2 linked regions of the Homo sapiens genome follow. The protein of the gene in region 1 purifies or fractionates together with the protein of each later gene. This does not show direct contact. Each region holds a gene or a part of one and is shown in the gene's direction. Other genes may lie near its edges.

The links. Proteins that work in one complex are often made in the same cells at the same time.
Region 2: the proteins of RAB3GAP2 (region 1) and TMEM63A purify together in Homo sapiens (co-immunoprecipitation; one large-scale study listed by IntAct). This does not show direct contact.

The regions. Positions count from the first base shown.
Region 1 is NC_000001.11:220,265,954-220,269,453, reverse strand, and holds part of RAB3GAP2 (rab3 GTPase-activating protein non-catalytic subunit), read left to right. Parts: intron 1-1,738; exon of another isoform or gene 1,739-3,275; intron 3,276-3,500. UniProt on the Homo sapiens protein: Regulatory subunit of the Rab3 GTPase-activating (Rab3GAP) complex composed of RAB3GAP1 and RAB3GAP2, which has GTPase-activating protein (GAP) activity towards various Rab3 subfamily members (RAB3A, RAB3B, RAB3C and RAB3D), RAB5A and RAB43, and guanine nucleotide exchange factor (GEF) activity towards RAB18.
Region 2 is NC_000001.11:225,858,381-225,861,880, reverse strand, and holds part of TMEM63A (mechanosensitive cation channel TMEM63A), read left to right. Parts: intron 1-883; coding exon 884-1,021; intron 1,022-2,531; coding exon 2,532-2,685; intron 2,686-3,500. UniProt on the Homo sapiens protein: Mechanosensitive cation channel with low conductance and high activation threshold. In contrast to TMEM63B, does not show phospholipid scramblase activity. Acts as a regulator of lysosomal morphology by mediating lysosomal mechanosensitivity.

The DNA.
Region 1 (3,500 bases):
CCACACCCAGCCTAACATTGCCCTTTTAATAACACTCAATGGTTTTTGATTGCACTTAACGTAAAATCCAAAGTTCTTAAATGGTGTATAAGGCCCTTGAGACTCTGCTTCCTGCCATTTCTTGGACCTTATACACCTCTCCCCTTATTTCTTATGCTTCAGACGCTCTTTTTTGTTGTTAAACCAGCCAACCACATTTGTGGCTAAGGTTTTTGCCCTCACTGTTGTCTATGCCTTGGATGCTTTTTGCAGATCTTTGCATGCTAGTTGCATCTTGTCATTCAAGTCTCAGCTCAAATGTCAACTCAGGGCAGCCTTTTCTGACCACCTGATCTAGATCTAAAGTAGTCAATACAACCCCCTTGTTCCTACTTGTTGTTCTCAATCATATCATCCTGTTTATTTTCATCATTATATTTCTACTGTCCAGTATGGTAACCTCTAGGCACATGTGGTTATTGAGCCTGTGAAATGTGGCCAGTGCAACTGAGGAACTGAATTTTTAAAATTCAAGTTAATTTTAATTAATTTAAATTTAAGTAGCCAAAGTGGCTAATGCCTATAATATAGTATGGCACAGTTATAGGTGCTAAAACTCAGGTACATACAGATTGAATACTTGTCCAAGTTACATAGGCAGTTGGGGATATAAATACACCCCAAACATCTAGATTAATTTGCACTATACCTATAGATTTATAAATATGGTTTAATGTATTTCTCTTCTAAATCAAATTCTTGAGTTTATGTATGTTGATATTATTGTGGCTATGATCAGTTCATGTAGAAAATGAACAGAATGGACCTCTTCACCAGTGAGCCCCTTTGTAAAACCTGTACAGATGATCTCAGACTTATGATGGTTTGGCTTCCAATTTTTTAGCTTTACAGTAATGTGAAAGCAATGTGTACTTTGTAGAAACCATACTTCAAATTTTGCACTTTGATCTTTTCCAGAGCTAGTGATACAATGGGTAAGATACTCTTTTGTGATGGTGGGTAGCAGCAGCAAATATGAGAGACTGTACTCTACGGTATTCAAGAAGTACTGTATTCAAGAAATTACATGAGATATTTTCAACCCTTCATGATAAAATAGACTTTGTGTTAGAAGATTTTGCCCAACTATAGGCTAATGTAAGTGTTCTGAGCACTTTTAAGATAGTCTAGGCCAAGCCGTAATATAAAGAGTTTTGAACGTAAACTTTTGTACAGTGAAATTTTACAGAGAAAAAATGACATTAGCAGAGCAGGTAAATAGGACCTGACTTAAACTGCTGATGGTATTTGCCTTTGCTTTTCTTCACTTTATTTATTAATGTTATAAATGTTTATTGGGAAGCAGAAATCATGAGATCATCTTAAATTTTTTTAGCTGATATAGTTGTAATTTCTTAACCTAGCTCATCTCTAGAGGATATGTAAAAACATAAAACACCTCAATTACTTGTGAATTATAGAGGTGTATCAGTTGGTTTAAAAGTGCTTTTATTGGGCTGAGCTCTTGGAAGACTCAGGTCCTTGGGTCATAGGCATCACGGACCAATCTGAAGAAAACTGCATTTCAGGGCCTGTTGAGGCTAAAACTCCAGTTGGAGGTCCAGAACATGTTCTCGTGACTCAGCAATTTCCTTGTCAGAATCCATTACCTGCAAATAGTGGCCAGGCTCAGTGGGTCTTGTGTCCTTCAAATTCTTCGCAGCGTGTTCCTTTGCAAGCACAAAAGCTTGTCTCCAGTCACAAGCCAGTTCAGAATCAGAAGCAGAAGCAATTGCAGGCAACCAGTGTACCTCATCCTGCCTCCAGGCCACTGAATAACACCCAAAACAGCAAGCAGTCCCCGCTGTCGGCACCTGAAAATAATCCTGAGGAGGAACTGGCATCAAAACAGAAAAATGAAGAATCAAAAAGAGGCAATGGGCTTTGGAAGACCTTGAAATTGGTCGCCCTCCGGGTAAAGGAAAGTTTGGTAATGTTTATTTGGCAAGAGAAAAACAAAGCAAGTTTATTCTGGCTCTTAGGGTGTTATTTAAAGCTCAGCTGGAGAAAGCAGGAGTGGAGCATCAACTCAGAAGAGAAGTAGAAATACAGTCCCACCTCCAACATCCTAATATAATCAGACTGTATGGTTATTTCCATGATGCCACCAGAGTCTACCTAATTCTGGAATATACACCACTTGAAACAGTCAATACAGAACTTCAGAAACTTTCAAAGTTTGATGAGCAGAGAACTGCTACTTATATCACAGAATTGGCAAGTGCCCTGTCTTACTGTCATTCAAAAACAGTTATTCATAGAGACATTAAGCCAGAGAACTTACTTCTTGGATCAGCTGGAGAGCTTGAAATTGCAAATTTTGGGTGGTCAGAACATGCTCCATCTTCCAGGAGGACCACTCTCTGTGGCACCCTGGACTACCTGCCCCCCGAAATGATTGAAGGTCGGATGCATGATGAGAAGGTGGATCTCTGGAGCCTTGGAGTTCTTTGCTGTGAATTTTTAGTTGGGAAGCCTCCTTTTGAGGCAAATACATACCAAGAGACCTACAAAAGAATATCACGGGTTGAGAATTCACATTCCCTGACTTTGTAACAGAGGGAGCCAGGGACCTCATTTCAAGACTGTTGAAGCATGTTCCCAGCCAGAGGCCAATGCTCAGAGAAGTACTTGAATACCCCTGGATCACAGCAAATTCATCAAAACCATCAAATTGCCAAAACAAAGAATCAACTAGCAAGTATTCTTAGGAATCGTGCAGGGGGAGAAATCCTTGAGCCAGGGCTGCTGTATAACCTCTCAGGAACATGCTACCAAAATTTATTTTACCATTGACTGCTGCCCTCAATCTAGAACACTAAAAGAAATATTTGTTTTACTGAGCAGGTGTGCCTTAACCTCCCTACTCAGAAAGCTCCACATCAATAAACATGACACTCTGAAGTGAAAGTAGCCACGAGAATTGTGCTACTTATACTGGTTCATAATCTGGAGGCAAGGTTCGACTGCAGCCACCCCATCAGTCTGTGCCAGGCATGGTGTCCTCCCAGGAGGCAAATCCAGAGTCTGGCTATGGGGAAAGTGACCACTTTGTGCTGACTCGATCGGTTAAGGAGCTGTCCAATAACCTTCCAAGTACCTGAGTGAGTGTGTAACTTATTGGGTTGGCCAAGCCTGGTAAAGCTGTTGGACTGAGTACGTGATTCTTTTTAAGTAGGAAAATAAAGATATTTGTACAGAAAAAAAAGTACTTTTATTTTACTGTGGACAGCTGCTAGAGATATAGTGATACCACTCTCTTCTATATTTGAATTATCAAAGTATGACTTTATGTTACTTTGTATATTTAATTACAAAAGAAGACTGTCCTCTGTAGCTTTAAAAGATGCTGAACCCTACCCTTTCCCAATGTTTACATTAATGACAACTGTTAAATTTTGTTTTTATAAAGTAAATACTATCTACTTAAGACATGAAGTCTGGTCTTACTGCTTTGTGGC
Region 2 (3,500 bases), 5.6 Mb from region 1:
GGAGGCACCCTCCTTTCAGACATCTGCTCTGGGCCACAGATCCTTCTGTCTGTGGCTCCCCACCTTCCCACAAATGCAAAGCTGTGGGGAAGACCCCTGGGGCACGCTGGGGCGCTCACTGCAGTGGGGAGCTTGACCCTGGGGAGTGGCTTTTCACAGTGGCCCTTGGCATGGGACTCTAGGCTCTCATGCCTGTGGTCTCAGTGTCATCTCGCCTTAGGAGCAGCACAGGGTGGGTCGGGAGAGGGGTGTGGAAAGGTGTCCAGCCACTGCCCCAGGCATTGTGACACTAGGAATGGACTCACACAGGACTTCCTGCCTCCTTGCAGACACTGGGGCAGGAGGAAAGGGGAAGGCATCTGAGGCAGGAGTAGAGGGGCTGCTGGGCTCCTTACGGGAGGTTAAAGGAGGAAAAGCTGTGACCTGTTGAGATGGTGAGGGTCGAGGTGGGAGCCCTGAGGAGGGAAGCTTGGGAACAGGCAATGTGTAACGTGGTCTATTGCTACACTTGGGCCTGGGGAAAAAGTGACAGAATGAAAAGTTGAGCCACTGGCCTGGCAGTAGCACTGATCAGAGCTCCAGCTTAACAGGCAGGGTGGAGGGGGATGGCCCTATGGAAGAGCAGTGTGTTGCCCTCAGTTTCCTTATCTGTAAAATGGGAATCGTACTCCCTTTGTTGCTGGTGGTTGCGAGGATTAAACAAAATTCTCCACACACTGTGCTAGCGTGGCACCTCTTACATAGCGTTACTCATAATACACTAATCACAACAAAGCAAAGGTCCTATGCCACTGCCTCCCACTCCTACTCAGTCCCCACTTGCCACATGTGTGCTTGGTAACCTGAGTAGCCTGGGCCTGGCTGTTGCTACATTTCCTTGCAGCATCCTGAAAGATTTCAATGCCTGCAAGTGTCAGAGCCTTCAGTGCAAAGGTGAGCCCCAGCCGTCCTCCCATAGCAGGGAGCTCTATACCTCCAAGTGGACAGTCACCTTTGCTGCTGACCCTGAGGACATCTGCTGGTAAGCTCCTAGACCAAGGAGAGGTGGGAGAGAGGCCTGGGTTCCTGGTGGGAGCTGCCCATCACCTGGAGCACAGGTGTGACCTGGCAGTCAATGGAGATCTCCACACATCTGCAATTCTGTGGGCTGTGATGCTGTGATGTGCTCGGTGTGGCCCAACTGGGGTATCTGCCCAGCCCTTCCCTCCAGTGTTCCTCCCTAGCATTCAAGTGCTACCCAGCAGAAATATAATGCCAGTTCTGCATCTAATTTTAAATTTCCTAATAGCCATGCTAAAAAAGTAAAAAGAAACAGTTGAAATTAATTTTAATAATGTATCTCGCCCAATATATCCAAACTGTTATTTCAACATGCAATTTTTGAAAAATGTGAGATGTTTTACATTCTCTTTTTCACACTTAGTCTTCAATATCTGGTGTGTATTTTACACTTCTAGCACCTCTCAATTCACACCAGCCACATTTAAAATGCTCAGTAGCCGCATGCAGCTTGTGCAGCCTTACTTAGGTCCAGTGTCAGCCTGGGGCCGTGCTGGGGAGCTGAGCTGTGTCCATGGGGGCCCTGGTGAGCCTCCAGTGCTGTGCTGAGGGTAAGGGCACCCAGCGCAAGCCCCAGCGCAGCTGCCTGTCCAGCCCTGCCTCAGCTCCTTGCACAGAATGAGCTTGAAGTGCTCCCCTCTGCTCGGTTCTAGTTCTGCCTCTGACAGTTTTGCTCTTTGGTTCACAAGGCTTCCTAAACTCAGGATTGCTTTGTGGGTCTGTTCTTTGGGATGAGAGGCCAGGGCAGGTGCAAGCTATGCCTTCACTCCTTTGTCCCTGCCTTCCTCCTTCCTGTACCCCAGCTACAGCCCCGTTGGGAAGAATGTGTCGTTAGTCACAAAGCATTGCAGATGTGTCTAAGAAATGCCACGCTGGGGCCGGGCGTGGTGCTCACACCTGTAATCCCAGCACTTCGAGAGGCTGAGGCAGGCGGATTGCCTGAGCTCAGGATTTCAAGACCACCCTGGGTAACATGGTGAAACCCTGTCTCTACTAAAAATACAAAAAAATTAGCTGGGTGTGGTGGTACACGCCTATAGTCCCAGCTACATGGGAGGCTGAGCAGGAGAATTGCTTGAACCTGGGAGGCAGAGGTTGCAGTGAGCCGAGATCACACCACTGCACTCTAGCCTGGGTGACTGAGCAAGACTCTGTCTCCAAAAAAAAAAAAACAGAAAAAGAAAAAATAAATGCCATGCTGGAGCCTTGTTTGGCCTGCTTGGGTGCTCATGCCATCTCTTTGGGTAGGTTCTGGCCCCCAGACTTTAGCTGGGGAGCCACATCTGAGAGAATAATTGTTCCCTCTGAGCTCTTGGGGACCTAAGATTTGGTCTTTCTGTAGTTGAAGGTCAGTGCAGAGAACTTGCCCCCAGGCTAGTCTCTTGGTCTGCCTAAATCTGACCTTCTGACCCACCTAAGCCACGAGCACTGGGAGACAAGCCTCGAGACCTGTATCCCCTCTCCCGCTGCAGGAAGAACCTCTCTATCCAGGGCCTCCGCTGGTGGCTACAGTGGCTGGGCATCAACTTCACCCTCTTCCTGGGGCTATTTTTCCTGACCACACCCTCCATCATCCTGTCCACCATGGACAAGTTTAATGTCACCAAACCCATCCATGCGCTGAATGTGAGTAACTGTTCTGCAAGGCCCCTCCCAGGATAGCTGGTGAGAAGAGGGCTTGGTGGGTGGGGAAGGAGTGGGGACAGGAGTGGGGTGTGTGCGGGGAACTAAACCAGTGGGTCATGTTGCTCAGCTCACATCCTTGCTTTTAAGCCCTGAGCAGGCATGGCCACATTTATTACAAAGTCCTTATAGTAATGCCATACACACACACACACACACACACACACACACACACACACACACACACACATTATATGTATATATACACACACATGCATACATATATATTTTAATAGACTATCTAAATACTGAATGGTAGGGATCATTTGAGTTGAATGTGGTATATTCAGGTTGGTAGACTATCAAGCATCCATTCAAAATTGTATAGATTTTGTGGCACCCATGCAGGGCTCCTGACAGAAGCAGGGATGTACCAGTGAGGCATGTCTATCATGGACACTACGGGGAGGGGCCAGGAAGGAAGGAAAAAAGCTTCGTTGATTGGGGTGGCAGGATCACAAATTATTTCTTTTACATTTTGGTTGCTAATGACCTTGTTATAAAACTATTTTGGGGCCGGGCACGGTAGCTCACGCCTGTAATCCCAGCATTTTGGGAGGCCAAGGTGGGCGGATCACCTGAGGTCAGGAGTTCGAGACTAGCCTGGCCAACATGGCACAACCCCATCTCTACTGAAAATACAAAAATTAGCTGGGCGTGTTGGTGGGCGCTTATAATCCCAGATAGTCAGGAGGCTGAGGCAGGAGAATCGCTTGAACCGGGAGGTGGAGGTTGCAGTAAGCCGAGATTGCACCACT